Regions from separate parts of the Homo sapiens genome. Here region 2 is linked to region 1. The links come from fine-mapping of genetic effects on gene expression. Tissue or cell type: monocytes after interferon gamma. Region 1 holds a variant in brackets; the other region holds the start of a gene. All regions are shown on one strand. Distances are from middle to middle.

What was found. PIP is the estimated chance that this variant, and not a neighbour inherited with it, causes the effect.
Region 2: PDGFB starts here. The variant in region 1 is the best candidate, but not a certain one, in a credible set for the expression of PDGFB in monocytes after interferon gamma (Fairfax 2014, PIP 0.53).

Annotation. Positions count from the first base shown.
Region 1 is chr22:39,261,584-39,269,906 of GRCh38, reverse strand. No RefSeq gene overlaps it. Among named protein-coding and RNA genes, the nearest start is that of PDGFB, 21 kb to the right of the region's middle. RefSeq lists enhancers at 536-1,068, 2,837-3,106, 3,287-3,366, 6,988-7,487. The variant TC/C (reference allele first, on the strand shown) is at 3,640.
Region 2 is chr22:39,241,533-39,249,855 of GRCh38, reverse strand. PDGFB (platelet derived growth factor subunit B) reads left to right here and starts at 4,874. Exons shown (of 7, transcript NM_002608.4): 1 at 4,874-5,955. The coding sequence starts at 5,893. RefSeq lists a silencer at 6,740-6,819.

The sequences.
Region 1 (8,323 bases):
CTCCCTCTGGAGTTAGGGTCAGGGGCTCCCTCTGGAGTTAGGGTCAGGGCCTCTTGCTGAAGCCATGGCTTCCTCCCTCCCTGGGCTTAGTCTCCTCAGCTATAAAATGAGACGGTGGGGCTGGGGGCTCTAGGCTCCCCGCATTCTGTGAGCCCATGACCCCGGGGGTGGGTGCTCCCCTGTTCATTAATAATAAGATGACCACTTACTGGGGTGTCCACCAGGGGCTCTTCCCGTGAAGGCTCACAGTGACCGGGAGGGAGGAACTCCACTACAGTCTGTTTTAGAGGTGAGGAAGCCAAGGCGCAGGGTGGTTAGGAAATGCCTCAGGTCATGCAGCCAGTGTAGGGTGAAGCTGGGGTTTTCTGGGCCACCCTAGGCCAGCAGCCGTCCTACTGTCCTGCAGTCACTGCTGTTTCTTCCTTTCTCTCTTAATCCACATGGAGCTGAGGGGGTGGGAGGTGGCTGGGGTTTGGAGTGCGAGCGGGGGGTCTCCCGTGGGAGGCAGTGGAAACTTGGGAATGTGTAAGTCACTGGTGCTGGTGCTCTAGTCTCTCCCATCCAGTCAGGGCCACACCTCCCTCTGGGCTGGACCGGAGCTCTGAAGCTAGCTGTAAACCCTCCCTGGGGTCAGGGAGGGCTCCCTGGAGGAGGTGGCGTCTCAGCTGAGCAAGAGTAAGCATGAAGCAGGTAAAGGCAGGAGGAGAGGGTGTTCTGGGCAGAGGGAGGCTCTCCTCAAATAGGAAACCTCCAACCTGACTTTTGAGCTCTGGCTCTCAGGCCCATGTCCACAGTGGTCTTAGACCTCTGCTGCCCTGGGGACCCTCTGAGCTGCCCCTGGCTGCGGTGGGGCAGTCTGTCCCCCTGCCAGGGTCTCCCAGGACCTGACAGTTTTCCCACTGGACTGTCAGGCAGGCGTGGCCAAAAGCCTGGACTCAGGATCCGAGTCGCTCTGGTTCAAATCCTGCCCCTGTCCCTTGTAGCTCTGTCACCTCAGCCAAGTGACTTCATCTTCTTGTGACTTGTCTCTGGATTACAATCATTAACATCCCTCCAGCCGAGTCAGGAATGGCCAGGACCCAATGAATGTGTGCAGAAAGGACGGCCAAGAAGCTCAGTGTGGTGTGTGTCAAGGTAGCCAGGTCGGGCCTGGGCAGAGGGGGTGCCACGACTGAGCTCCAATCCCTGGGGGCCCTCTGGGACCTGGGCCCAGTGTGGCCAGGCCTACAGAGTGTTCAGAAGAAGTCAGAAATCCAGACTCTTGTGAAATCTCCCAAGTTTTAAGGGAAGGCCAAATGTTAGAAAACAGTTTGGGGCTGAGGAAAACCAGGACCCTGCCCTTAGAGCTGATAGATGTCACCCTCTGCCGGCCCACCTGTCCCCAGGTGGGATGCAAATGAGAAGCCATGCAAACGAACACCTCACATTGCATATAACCAAATGCGGAGGTGGGTGAGGATATACCCTTCTTCCCATCATGCCTTGTGGTAGAAACGCCTGGAGGGCACAGGCTTTGACTGTCCATTGCCGGGTCTCTGGAGCCCGGACCTGCGCCTGGCACACAGTGGGTTCACCTTCTCTGTTGAATCGAATGAATGAATGAAAATGATTAGATGGAAGCATGATGACAGAGATAGGCGAGAGACAGAGGAAGGAGCGTGGGCATGGCTAACCGGCTGAGTGGCCATGAGCAGTGTATGTCACCTCCTGGGGCTTCTCTGCTCCTCTGTAGACCAGGCATGGCTCAGGTCCTTAGAAAAGCAACTGGGTTGAGTCAGAAGCATATCACACATGGCTTGCTGACCCAGGAATTCCATGCCAGCCAAGGAGCAACCCCTAAATATGGAAAAAGGAAAGCTATCTGTAGAAAGATATTAATCGAAATATATTATTTATAGCTTCGAAAAACTGGAAATAACTGAGATTTCCAACAATGAGGGAATGGCAAAATAAACCATGGAATATGGTTTGACAAAATATTAGGCAGCCAATAAAAATGAGGTTCAGAGAAGAGGAAAAAGAAACGAGATTACAGAGAGTGAAAGAACTAGAAAAGTGGCCATGATATAATGGCAGGTCAAAAAGGCAGGATACCACCTTTTTTTTTTCTTTTAATATACAGTATGACCTCAGCCCCATTTTTTTTTTAAAGTCCTCAAACAAAAAACTATGGAAGGAAATACATCAAACCTTAACAATGATTGTCTCTGGGTGGTGGGGCTGTGGGTGGTGATTTTTCTTCCTTATTTTGACTTTTCTGCAATTTTTAGATTTTCATAAATGAACATGTATTGTTGCTTTTATGGTAAAGATATTAAAAATGATTTTTTTTTGACGGAGTCTTGCTCTGTCGCCCAGGCTGGAGTGCAGTGGCATGATCTTGGCTCACTGCAACCTCCGCCTCATAGGTTCAAGTGATTCTCCTGCCTCAGCCTCCCGAGTAGCTGGGACTACAGGCGTCCGCCACCACTCCTGACTATTTTTTTTTTGCATTTTTAGTAGAGACAGGGTTTCACCATATTGGCCAGACTGGTCTCGAACTCCTGACCTTGTGATCCGCCCACCTCGGCCTCCCAAAGTGCTGGGATTACAGGCATGAGCCACTGTGCCCGGCCAAGACATTAAAAATGAAAAAAAAAAATCAAAGGAATTCGGGGTGGGGATGGGGTGGATGCTGTCTGTGCTCTGCCCTCGAGTCTCTGAGAGGGAGTTGGCATCAGGGAAGGTTCTAGGCTTGGAGGTGGCAGCCAGGTGTCAGGGGCTGCCTGTGTGATCCTGGGCAGATCCCTTTAGGCCTCAGTGGCACATCCTGTCAGATGGGGCCTGGTCACCTACTTTTCTTTTTTCTTTTGGAGAAAGGGTCTCATTCCTGTTGCCCAGACTGGTGTGCAGTGGCATGCCATCATGGCTCACTGCACTCTTGACTTCCCGGCTCAGGTGATCCTCCCACCTCAGCCTCCTGAGTAGCTGGAACTACAGGTTTGTGCCACCACACCCGGCTAATTTTTTGTATTTTTAGTAGAGACAGGGTTTCACCATGTTGCCCAAGCTGGTCTTTAAACTCCTGGCCTCAAGTGATCCGCCCACCAGCCTCCCAGAGTGCTGGGATTACTGACGTGAGCCACTGCATCTGCACCCGGGCCTCTGGCCACCTATTTGACAGAGCGTGTAGCAAGAACAGGAAGGGAACGTGGCTGAAAACAGTATCGTTGTTAGTTCTTAGGAAGGCCAGTTCTGTTTTCAGACACCCGGAAAGATGTCAGCGTTCTTACTGGGGTGTCCCTGGGAGTATTTTTAGTCCCAGAGGTACAGATGTTCCTGACTCATTTTGGAAAGTAGAACTGGGGTGATCTCTAGACACGCATCACTCTGTGTGGGAGGGGCATGGCCAGGAAGTCAGAGTCCTGGGTTCTAGGGCTGGCTCTTCCCATACTGCTGTGTGATCTTAGACGAGTCACTCAGGCTTCCTGGGCCTCAGCTTCCCCTGTGCAATGGGCTTTGGACACAGAGATCACTAAGATGAATAAACTCTCTGTTTAAACGAGGCCTTCTCCCCCAGGCCCTAAGGGGCAGGAACCCAGGAGTCTGAGAGTGAGCCCCTTACCGGCTGTGGTCCCCAGAAACTTTTTTTTTTTTTTT[TC/C]TTGAGACGGAGTTTCACTCTTGTTACTCCAGGCTGGAGTGCAGTGGCACAATCTCGGCTCATTGCAACCTCTGCCTCCCGGGTTCAAGCGATTCTCCTGCCTCAGCCTCCCGAGTAGCTGGGACTACAGGCGCGTGCCATCACGCCCTGCTAATTTTTGTATTTTATTAGAGATGGGGTTTCATGATGTTGGCCAGGATGGTCTTGATCTCTTGACCTCATGATCCACCCGCCTCGGCCTCCCAAAGTGCTGGGATTACAGGTGTGAGCCACTGTGCCCAGCCTCCCAGAACCTTCATATGTGTCCTGTTACCTTATTTCCAGCCACCCTTCCCTAGGGGAGTATGTATGTGTGTAAGGGTATGTGTGTGTGGGTCTATGGAAACTCAGTTCACCATGATGGGATCACCTTGTTTCCCTGGACCTCCTCAATGGTATTCCACTGCTCGGAGTGTCTAGTGGTGGGGGAGGATGGAGGCTGCCTCGGAGCAGGTGGTGTGTCCAGGAAGAGAGTGCCTGTGATGGACCGGACGCCCGTCCGTGTGGTGTGCACACACATCCCCAGCCCGCGCGAGCAGGGAGCTGTGATGGGGCCCGGGGAGTTTCTGGCTACCCTTGTCCTTGGTGCCATGAGGAACCTCAGAAAGGACTCAGTCCTGAGCACTCCCAGGCTCCCACTCTGACACATGTAGTAGATGTGTGCGACAAGCACATCACGTCCCTGTAGACGCAGCTCAAAGCCTAATCATGGTGCATGCACTTTCTGTGCTTTCTACAGGCCCAGCTTTCCACAGAACCAGCGCCAGGAACCTTCAGAACGATTCTGTGAGACAGGCACTGATTCTCTTCAGCATTTACTGATGGGGAAACAGAGGCTCAGAGAAGTTAAGAAACTCACCCAAGGTCACACAGCAGCAAGTGGCAGGCAGGATTCAAACCCAGGCTGTCTGGATCAGGCCCACACCGTGACTCACGCATAGACTCTTCCAGCTGCTGCTCTGGCGATAAGGAGAAGCCCAGCAGAGACCGGTGGCTTTCCACGGTCACGTCGCAGATTAGTGCAGAGCCCAGGCACACTCCAGGACCCTGGACTTGGGAATGGGTTCTTTGCCCATGAACGTGAGTGGAGCCATCTGTCAGAGTCCTGGCTTCTATGCCCAGCACGGGCCAGGCAAGCAGGCCAGTGGAGAATGTGTCAATTGGACCTGAATAGCTTTCCATTTATCACCAGTCTATCCTTGTGCCAAGCCCTGTACCAGGCCCTGGGGTACAGAGACGAGCAAGACTCATTTTCTGCTCATAACCCAGGGACTTCCAGAAGGAGGTGACGTTGAGATTTGGTCAGATGGAGGAGGGCAGACAGGGCGTTCCGGGCTGGGGAAATGTCTGATGCATCTGGGGAATCTCCATGGTTTCTGGGAGGGTTGGGGAAAGCAAAGGAGAGGAGTTTTTGAGGGTCTGACGCTGCTGGGGGCAGGTGGGTGGGTCAGGGAGTGGGGACAGCTGCTGAGTCCACTGAGGCTCTGGAAGTTTCAGGCCCACCCTGGGGACGGAGATGTAGTCTAGGGAAGGACGTGCCCTCCACTTCTGGGTCACAGCTGGAAGGGGAAGTGGGGGCTGGGCACAGGGTCTGAGGTCACAAGGCAGGGACAGGGAGATGGTAGATCAGTACCCCAGCTGGTCCCTCAGAGGCGGGGAGGGGAGAGGGAAGCAGACCCAGCACCCGGCTTCTCTGACCACAGCTCCTGCGGCGCCTCCTCACTCACTTCCCCAATGCGACAAGCTCGTCCCCACCACAGGGCCTTTGCACCTGCTGTTCCTCCTGCCTGAAAATGCTCTCTCCTTTCAGCCACTTGCCTCCCCAGAGCAGGCTCCAATTTGCTCATTTGTTCACTGTCTGTTCCCCTCTTGGGACATGGGCTCCATGATGGCAGGCTTGGTCTGTCTTTGCCACTGACTCCCGGCTCCAAGCACCGTGCCCAGCACACAGTGGGCCCTCAGCAACAGCACTGAGCACTTGCTATGTGCCAGGCACGCCTCATGGGCAGTAACTCATTTAATTCTCAAAACAACCCTCTGGGTAGGGGACTAGGGGCCTGAAGCTGAGTCAGTCTCGAGATCTTCTTCCAGGAAAACACATGATTGTGGGTATGAGAGAGGCAGGGTGCCTTGGAAGGGGCCATGCACATGAGGCATGCCAGAGCTTAGGAGTCAGGAGCCAAAGGGCAAATATGCCCCTGCCTCTGGGGTGGGGGGTAGCCCCATGGTAGATGTGAGGAAACTGAGGCACAGAGAGATTAAGTAAGTTGCCCCTTTGGCTCGCAAGTGGCAGCCCTGGGATTTGATCCCAGGAGGTGTGGGTTCAAAGATCCCAGGAGATTTGGATGCTATATATAGCTTTAACTCAATCAATATTTGTTGACTATGTGAGCGACTGGTTAGGCCTTGACAAATGATTCACCTTCTCTAAGCATCAGTTTCAACATCTGAAGTATGGGGTGTATCTTAAATAGGCAGGAGAGCAACCCATCTTGAGAGGCTCGACGCCCCTTCTCTTACTCTCTCACCCACTGGGTGCTATGGTTTGAATATTTGTTCCGTCCAAAACTCACGTTTTAAGGAAACTTAATCCCCAGTGTGGCAATGTTGAGAGGTGGGCCCTTTAAGAGGTGATGGGGTCAGGAGGGCTCCGTTCTCAAGAATAGATTAATCCATTTGTGGACTAATGGGATAATGGGTTATCATGGGAGGGGAAGGAAGAGAGGCCTGAGCATGTTAGCCCGCCCAGCTCCCTCACCATGGGATGCCCTGCGCCATCTTGGGAACCTGCAGAGAGTCCCCACCAGCAAGAAGTCCCTCACCAGCTGTGGCCCCTCAACCTTGGCCCTCTCAGGCTTCACACCTGTAGGAAATAAATTCCTTTTCTTTATAAAGCATCCAGTTTCAAGGCCGGGCGCGGTGGCTCACGCCGGTAATCCCAACACTTTGGGAGGCCAAGGCGGGCAGATTACAAGGTCAAGAGATTGAGACCGTCCTGGCCAACATGCTGAAACCTGTCTCTACTAAAAATACAAAAATTAGCTGGGTGTGGTGGCGGGCGCCTGTAGTCCCAGCTACTCAGGAGGCTGAGGCAGGAGAACTGCTTGAATGTGGGAGGCAGACGTTGCAGTGAGCTGAGGTCGCAACACTGCATTCCGGCCTGGCAACAGAGCGAGACTCTGTTTCCAAAAAATAAATAAATAAACAAAGTATCCAGTTTCAGGTATTCTGTTATAAGCAACAGAAAGCAGACTAAGCAAGGGTTTCAACTGGGCGGAAAGGTTCTGGTGTCCTTCATTCATTCAACAGACATTTGAAGGTCTATTTTGTGCAGGGCCTGCTCTATGCACTGAGGATAAAGCAGTAAAAACAAAGTCCCTGTTGGCAAGGGCTCATATAATGATGGGAAGAGGTAGACAACAGACAATTGAGATCTAACTTATCACCACCATGAGGAGGCGGGGCATTCAACAGAGAGAAATCAAGCAGAGGAGACTAGGGACTTTGGTGGAGGGGAAGTGGGGGTGGGGAGGCCTCCCCAGGGAGGTGATGTTTTAGCTGAGAGCTGAAGGGCTGAGGGATGGAGCCAGCCAGACACCTGGGGGAAAAGAACTAGGTAGAGGGAACGGCGCTGTCAATGGCTCTGAGGAAGGGAAGTGCTTGGTGAGTTTGGGGACACAGCCAAGAGGCCCGAGGGGCTGCAGCAGAGAGAGGTGGGGCGGGTGGGCCAAACTGAGGTCAGATAGGTCCTGGGGCAGGTCTTGTTGGGCCTGTGGGTCACTGTCAGGACTTGAGTGCCATGGGAGCCACTGGAGGGCTCTGAGCAGGGTCATCTCTGCCCTGTAGCCCCACTTGGGCTGCTGTGCAGGGGACAGACTGCAGGGTCGGGGCAGAAGTCAGGAGGCTACCACAGCCATCCAGGCAGGAGGTGACAGTGGCTTGGATTTGGGTAGTGGGTAGAGATGTGAGATGGGTTGGCTTCTAGGTTATTCTGAACTTCAGTCCAACAGGATTTGCAATGGGTCATGATCTAACTAGCTACTGCTGCATAACAAACCAACCCCAAATGTAGTAGCTTAAAACAACAAGAATCACTGGATCATTTCTCATAGTTTCTGTGGGTCAGGAATTTGGGAAGGGCTTAGCTGGGTGGGCTTGCTTGGGGTCTCCATGCAGTTGCAATTGCAGTTGCACTTCGTAGCTAGAGCAGGTGCAGTGGGCACTGGCCGGGCCTCTCTCTCCTCCCCTTGTACTCTCTGGGTCCCTCTGTTGGGTCTCTCCGTGTGGGCTGATTGAGCTTCCTCACAGCATGGCAGCTCAGGACTCCTGAGGCAAGCGTCCCAGGAAAACCAAGCAGAAACAATATTGCTTTTGATGACCCAGCCTCAGAGGCCACAGAGCTTTGGTTCTGTGGATTCCAGTTTATCTGGATTCAAGGAAAGGGAATGCAGACCTCACCTCTCCACAGGAGGAACATCAATATGGCATTGCAAGAGGAGCATGTGGGATATCAGGCATTGTTGTGGTCCCTGCTGGAAAATGCAGCCTGCCAGAGATTGACGAAGCTGAATTTTTATCCTGTCACTGTGTGTCCATGGGCAAGCTGCTCAGCCCCTTGATATCTCTGTTTCCTCATTTATAAAA
Region 2 (8,323 bases), 20 kb after region 1:
TCTGGAGCTCAGAGGTGAATTTGCAAGTGAGGTAGGGGTGTGTGTGTGTGTGTGTGTGTGTGTGTGTGTGTGTGTGCGCGCGCGCGCAGAGCCTGCAGTAATAACCATCACTGTGATGACCAACATCTGTGGGGTGCTCACTCCAGGCTTTATCACTTCAGGTGAATTAACTCATTTAACCCAGTGAGGTAGGGACTATTGTCCCTACGACTTACAGAGGAGGAACGTGAGGCTCAGGAAGGTTAAGGAATTTGCTTAAGGTCACAGAGTTAGTAGATGGTAGGGCAGGGCTTTGAACCCAGGTGGTCTTTGACGGGAAGCCTAGTCCCTTGCCCTCTCTCAGCCTCACTTTCCTCATCTGTACAATGGGCATATACGATGGCAATGCCTTCTCCCTGGGCGACTGTGAGGGTGAGGCAGGCAGAGGGGAAGGAAGTGCTTTGTGGACAGCCAAAGGCCCTGTAGACAGGGAGGCAGGGGATGGGGCAGCAAGGGGCATGGGGGAGCTGATGAGGGCCACGCGGAGTGGGGTAGGGCTTGGAGTTTCAGACCATTTGTGGCATGGTCTTGGACGGTCTCCAGCTTAGAGCCTCACTTCCTCTCCATCAAGTATGGAGAAGCAGAGCTGCCTGGCCCAGGTGTTGCTGGCCCCTCTCAGTGGCGGGGAGGCTCCCAGTGATCATCGCTCTCACCTTTCTGGACTTGAGGGCGTGAGTTTGCCCCCGGGATGGAACCCAACTCCTTCCTTGGTATTTCTTCACCCCAGCCAGTGTCCTGGACCCCCACGCCCAGGGTGTAAGATGCTCTTCATGGATGAGGGCTTGGATAGCTCTGAGCACACAGTCTAAAAAGCCCCCAACCTTGGGCAGCACCCCCATCCCCCACGGCTGTGGCCACTCTTTTTCCCTTTGGCTCAGATCTGTCCTGGAGTGGAGGGTGGAGAGTTACGGGGGTGTGGGCGCCCCCATCCCTAGCTCTGCTGGAGAACCTTATTTCCCAGTGGCCTGAACGCGAAGATGGGCGGGGGCCTTCCCAGTTCTCTCATTCAAGTGCTCCTCAGACCCAGCCCTGATGAAGTTCCGAGGTCAGATGAGACCACGTGCATTCAGGGTGGTGTGGCTTCAGACCCTTCCCAGTTCTGATACCTCCAGAAGGGGTGCCCTTCAGGGGCCCTGTGCTTCCAAGCTTAGAGGCTCATGCTACAAGCCCCTCCCCAACTCTTTCCACCCTTTAGGAAGGGCCTGGCATCTCTGCAATAACTGGTCAGGACTCAGAAAGAGAAATTGGCAGGATTTTAATCATTTATTCATTCCTTCAGCGAGCGGCACTTCCTGAGCAGCCACTGTATGCTAGGAGCTGGCAGGAGGCCCTTGAACACTCTGGACTCAGTCTAGTGCTAGATTGATGATCAGGCCATGACGATGCCAGGTGTGCATGCTGTGGAGCCTGGAACAAGTGCCAAGCCTGGTGGGCCTTCTGGAGGAGGTGCCTGCTACACCCAGCCTGGCAGGAGGCAGACGATCAGGTGTTATTAAAAAAAAATTTTTAGGCTGGGTGTGGTGGTTCATGCCTGTAATCCCAGCACTTCGGGAGGCTGAGTGGGGCAGATCACTTGAGGTCAGGAGATCGAGAGCACCCTGGTCAACATGGTGAAACCGTCTCTACTAAAAATACAAAAATTAGCTGGGCATGGTGGCAGGCGCCTGTGGTCTCAGCTACTCGGGAGGCTGAGGCAGGAGAATCGCTTGAACCTGGGAGGCAGAGGTTGCAGTGAGAAGAGATCGCACCACGGCACTCCAGCCTCGGCGACAGACCGAGACCCCGTCTCTGAGATGGCTCACTGCAGTCTTGAACTCCTGGGCTCAGGGGATTCTCCCTCCTGACTCAGCCTCCTGAGTAGCTGGGGCCACACTCAGATATATATATATATATATATATATATATATATATATATATATATATATATTTTTTTTTTTTTTTTTTTTTTTTTTTGGTAATTTTTTTTAAGAGATGGGATCTCGCTATGTTGCTGAGGCTGGTCTCGAACTCCTGGCTGCACATGATCCTCTGGCCTCAGCCTCCCAAATTGCTGGGAATACAGGGGTGAGCCACCGTGCCTGGGGAGGTGTTCTTTACAGACTGTTCCTCTGCACAGAGAAGGTACAAGAAAGGAGCCCTTAGCACAACATTCAGGCCCAGGTGTCACGCAGGTGTCACGTAGCATTCAGGCCCAGGTGTCTGCTGGGCCCTCTTCTGCCACTTCTAACCCATGTACTGGCACCTGCACTGCAATGATTTGGGTCTATCTCACTGAGAGCATGGGAAGTCCCTGAGTGCCGAGGCTGGGACTCCTTCCTCATTCCATTTCTCAGCGCTTCACACAGGGTCTGCAAACAGTAGGCGTTCTACGATGCTGCTCTGAGTAGCCTTCCCTCTCCCTCAACTTGTACCTAAGTCAGAGTTCATATGGGTCCATCACTTTTTAGCTGGCAGAGCAGGTTCCCACATATTAATGCATGTGGCGCTCACCAAAGCGCTGTGTCAAAAGTGTCATCATTGTCATCAGCATCACCTGCCAGAAAATTGCACAGCACGGTGGTCTCAGCATGTGGGCTCTGTAGCTGGACTGCTCAGATTCAAGTCCTGGCCTTACCACTTACGGGCTGTGTGACCTTGAACAAGTGTATTGGCCTCTCTGTGCTTCCATTTCCCCATCTGTAAGATAGGAATAACACATCTCACAGGAGCATGGAGAGGCTACAGGTAGAGTAAGAAAAACACTAGCTACCACATAGTCAGCTCACTAATCATGGTAGTTGTTACCATTCTATTTATAGAAGACACAGAAGGTCAAGGTCAAATGACCCAGCTGTCCGGTGGAAGAGGGTTTTTATCTCTGAGTCGTTAGACTTCAAATCTAGTGTTTGGGGGTTATCTCCTCGTCCCGCTGCCCCATCTCCCTTGTCACCCTGTCTCCTAATTTATCTGTTTATACATCTGGTTGTCCTTCTCAATGGGGCTCTTCAAAGGCAGGGGCCTGCATTAGGCTGGTTCACACCTGTCTCCCCAGTGCCTGGAGCAGTGCGGGGCCACCAGTGAACTTGAAGGCTGCATGGAAGGTTCCAGGCGCTTGCTTCCTGCTAAGGTGTTTTGCTGAGCGCCTCCACATGGAGGACCTCATGGGAGCCTCCAGACCACTCCAGGAGCAGGGTAAAAATTCTCTACAACTGCACTGAGGTACAACAAACTGCACACATTTTGTTGTGATGTACGTATACACCCATAAGCCCATCACCACAATCAAAAATGACAAACATTTCCATCACCACTAAAATTTTGCCATGCCTCTCTGTTCTCTCTCACTCCTTCCCATTATAGATTTATTTTTATTTCTTTAGAGATAGGGTCTTGCTCTGTTGCCCAGGCTGGAGTGCAGTGGCACAGTCACAACTCACTGCAGCCTCAAACTCCTGGGCTCAAAACGATCCACAGTCTCCTGAGTAGCTGGGACTACAGGAGCTTGTTACCACACCCAGCTCCAGTTTATAAATTCATCTCCAGTTTATAAAGGAGGAAACCGAGGTACTGAGAGGTTAAAAAACCTTCCTGCAGACACTTGTCCAGCAAGTGGCCACTCCAGGATTTGGACCAAGGTGATGTGTCTTCAGGCTGTGTCTCTGCCACTGTGCCACGCTGCTGGGTGGTAGGCAGCAGTGGGTGGGTGCCTGCAGTGGTCTGTAAAGACCACCTGAGATGTCCTTCCTCCTCTGTTCCACCCTGTCCAGGTCCAAGAAGACAGTCTATGAAGAGAGAGCAGGTGTGACTCTCTCAGTGTGCTCCTCTGTGAGAAGCAGGCTGACATCCCAAAGGGAAGGGCGGATAACAGAGACAGTGCAAGCGGAGGAGATGAGGGTGCCTCAAAGCCGGGAGGCTGGGTGATGCAGGAGCCTGCGTGTCCCGAGGGGGGTGCTGGGCCCAGTGTGAGTACGTGTGACTGTGACTGAGACAGTGTGACTGCTGAAGGCAGGGACACAGCAGCTCCCTGACTGGGGGCAGAAGGCGTTAACTGTGTGAAGGCTGGTTGTGGGTGGGTGGGCTCTGGGCCTCGAACCCGGGGGCTGAGGGAGATAGTAAACAGCAGGGTGACTGACGGGAAGATCATGTTGGTAGCCCTGCGAAGATGCTGCAGGGCTGTGGGGGTTTGTGTGACTTTGCAGTTCAACAAATTCAAATTCAGCCAACGCTGGCAGGGCCTGTTGTGCCAGGCAACCAGCTAGGAGGAGGAGACTCGGACCCAGCTTGCAGCTGAAGGGCGCTGGCTGCCGGGTTCTGTGGGTTCACCTTGCGGTGTCTTCCCTTGCTAACACTGAGTCCTTACAATAGCCCCATCTCCAGGTTGAGGCTAGATGGAGGGGACAGAGGGAAGTGACTTGCCCAAGGTGACCCAAGCTCCCGAGTGCCAGGGCAGGATCTGAATTCAGGCTCTCAGACTGCAGAGCCTGAGTCCCTCCCTGCCATGCCTGTGCCAGGGTGGAAATGTCTGGTCCTGGAGGGGAGCGTGGACTCCTGGCCTTGGCTCTGGAGACATCCCCCTAGACCACGTGGGCTCCTAACCTGTCCATGGTCACTGTGCTGAGGGGCGGGACGGTGGGTCACCCCTAGTTCTTTTTTCCCCAGGGCCAGATTCATGGACTGAAGGGTTGCTCGGCTCTCAGAGACCCCCTAAGCGCCCCGCCCTGGCCCCAAGCCCTCCCCCAGCTCCCGCGTCCCCCCCCTCCTGGCGCTGACTCCGGGCCAGAAGAGGAAAGGCTGTCTCCACCCACCTCTCGCACTCTCCCTTCTCCTTTATAAAGGCCGGAACAGCTGAAAGGGTGGCAACTTCTCCTCCTGCAGCCGGGAGCGGCCTGCCTGCCTCCCTGCGCACCCGCAGCCTCCCCCGCTGCCTCCCTAGGGCTCCCCTCCGGCCGCCAGCGCCCATTTTTCATTCCCTAGATAGAGATACTTTGCGCGCACACACATACATACGCGCGCAAAAAGGAAAAAAAAAAAAAAAAGCCCACCCTCCAGCCTCGCTGCAAAGAGAAAACCGGAGCAGCCGCAGCTCGCAGCTCGCAGCTCGCAGCCCGCAGCCCGCAGAGGACGCCCAGAGCGGCGAGCGGGCGGGCAGACGGACCGACGGACTCGCGCCGCGTCCACCTGTCGGCCGGGCCCAGCCGAGCGCGCAGCGGGCACGCCGCGCGCGCGGAGCAGCCGTGCCCGCCGCCCGGGCCCCGCGCCAGGGCGCACACGCTCCCGCCCCCCTACCCGGCCCGGGCGGGAGTTTGCACCTCTCCCTGCCCGGGTGCTCGAGCTGCCGTTGCAAAGCCAACTTTGGAAAAAGTTTTTTGGGGGAGACTTGGGCCTTGAGGTGCCCAGCTCCGCGCTTTCCGATTTTGGGGGCCTTTCCAGAAAATGTTGCAAAAAAGCTAAGCCGGCGGGCAGAGGAAAACGCCTGTAGCCGGCGAGTGAAGACGAACCATCGACTGCCGTGTTCCTTTTCCTCTTGGAGGTTGGAGTCCCCTGGGCGCCCCCACACGGCTAGACGCCTCGGCTGGTTCGCGACGCAGCCCCCCGGCCGTGGATGCTCACTCGGGCTCGGGATCCGCCCAGGTAGCGGCCTCGGACCCAGGTCCTGCGCCCAGGTCCTCCCCTGCCCCCCAGCGACGGAGCCGGGGCCGGGGGCGGCGGCGCCCGGGGGCCATGCGGGTGAGCCGCGGCTGCAGAGGCCTGAGCGCCTGATCGCCGCGGACCCGAGCCGAGCCCACCCCCCTCCCCAGCCCCCCACCCTGGCCGCGGGGGCGGCGCGCTCGATCTACGCGTCCGGGGCCCCGCGGGGCCGGGCCCGGAGTCGGCATGAATCGCTGCTGGGCGCTCTTCCTGTCTCTCTGCTGCTACCTGCGTCTGGTCAGCGCCGAGGTGAGTTGCCACGGCGGCTGGGGCTGGTTCTTCATTCATTACCTTCGCCCCCCCCTTCTGACCGCCCCCTCCTCTCCCTGCAGTGAACTTTGGACCCTTGCAGCCCGCGAGCCTGACGCCGGGCGCTGGGTGACCTCTTCGGGCTGGGAGCGAGGTCCGGGGGTGACAGGCTCTAAGGGAAGGCAACAGCGGTGGCTTTCTTTCCAACCGGCGGGCGAATCTGGCTCCCTAAGCCGTTCCGTGTCGGGGGAGGGTGTGTGTGGCCCTGTCCCCCACCCTTTGGGAACCCGAGAACAAGCCCCTTCCCGGCCGGGGGAGAGGGGGTGGGGTGGTGCCCAGGGTGCAGAAGGCAGCGCGTCCTCCCGAGCCCACTTCGGCGCCAGCCTCGGCTTAGGCTCTGTCCTGCCATCGGCTTGCCCAGGAGGTGCAAGCTTGCGCACCGGTGCCATCCACGCCGACCTTTGACGGGGCTCGGGTCCCACCCTGGCTCCCGGTCGGGGTCCGGGTGGACGCCCTCCGGCACGCGCAGGGCATGCCCGGCCCCAGAGCACGGTCTGGAAGCAGCTTGTGTCTCGGGCGCGGGGTTTGGGGTGGGAGTAACAGGGAGAGAGAGAGAGAGAGAGAGAAAGAGAGAGAGAGAGAGAGAGACGGAGAGAGAGACGGAGAGAGAGAGGGAGAGAAAGATAGAGACGCAGGTAGGTTTCGGGCACTCGGGTAGGGGGAGGACTAGGGGCTCTGAAGGAATCCAGCCCCCGGGGCGCTGTGTGCCTGAGGCCTTGCCGTACCTGTGCCCGCGCCCTGCAGGAGGAAGCACCTCTCTCCCCCGCATGCAGGGTGCGGAGCGCGCCGCCTGCAAAAGCCTAGCTGCACGGGAGATGGGGTATAAAAACATCTGAGGGAGCGCTGGGGTCGGAGCCGTCCCCACCCCTCCCAGCCTCACGTAGCCGTGAGTTGGCAAGTCTACCCGGAATCCAGGTGGGAAAGGGGGCGGGGCAGGACGACGCGCGCGGTGGAGGGGAGGAGAGGGCAGCCGGGAGCGCGGCGTGACTGGGTACCGTCCCACCTCCGCCCGGCTGCGGCCGGGAGTCCGCACCTCGCCCGCACCTCGCCGGCTCCCGGGGAGGGTCGGCCCCTGCGGCCTCCAGCCAGGCGCAGGAAGGAGGCAGCGGCGGCGAAGGGGTTAAGGCGGAGGGCTCGGAGGCCGCGGCCCGGCCTTGGGCTGCCGCCAGCGCAGGTTGTTTTGACCACGGAGGAGCCGTCGCCGTCTCCTTTTGTTCTCGGGGCTCCTCGAGGGCCGCAGGCCGCCCGCCCGGGGGCCCCGCCCTTCCGCGGCCGCCCCCCGCGGCCCGCACCCGGGAGGGAGGACGCGGGGCTCGGCCGGGCCGCCTTCAGGCCCCTCCCGACGCCCCCTCTCCGCCTCTCCCGCAGCCCCCCGGGCCGCGGCCAGCTGTTGGGGAGGGGGTGGCCGGCCGGCCCCAGCTGCCGCCTCGCCTCGCCGTGGGACCTGGGGGCTGGGCCCGGTGCCAGGGCGTCCTGGGAACGGCGGCGCCCCGTGGCTGCTCTCCGCAGCCCACCCCGCCCGGGCCCCCGACTCGCTCACTCACCCCACGCATGCACACTCCTGGCCGGAGGCGATGCTGCGCTCCGGCGGGCGGGCGCGCAGAGCGACGGGCACGCACTACCGCGGCCAGGTCGCGCGCCCGCCTCTGCCACGCCCGTGCACACGCGGGACACACGCGCGCGCACCGCACACAAACGCACGCACGGCCCCTGCACGCGCGGCCTGAGCACACGTGCGCGCACACCCACGCACGTACACAGGCACGCACGGGCCCCCGTGCACCCAGCGCCTGGTGCTCGCCCCCGCGCAACAGGTGGGCCCTCCGTGGGCCCTGGCACCTCACCACCTCTGTAGCGGCCCCATTTCCTTCCTGGCGTCCTGTGAGGGAGGGAGAACCTCCCATCAGCACCACAGCACCTACTTTTTTTTTTGCCTCGTCAGCCCGACGCCCCTCAAACCTTACCCATCTGTGACTCCTTTTTTTCAACCACCTCCGCGTGGTGGAAAATGGTGGTGATGTGACTCTGAGGGGCACTGAGCTGTCCAGAGCGATTCCCCCTTCACATAAGCCTTCATTTGAACCTGCAAGACTGGAGGGACCTGGCGTGTGCAACCGCGGAGGGGGCTCCCACCCCTGGCTGTTGCATTCTCTTGGCTGATCCCAGCGTGCCCCGGGGAGGCCGCTGACAGCTGGATGTTTCCCCAGCCTCCCCTTACCATTTCCAGCTTCGTCCAGCACCTCCTCCTTCTTTCCCACAGCTCCACGGGCTCGTGTATCTGGGGTGGAGGCTGTGGCACAGAAACTGC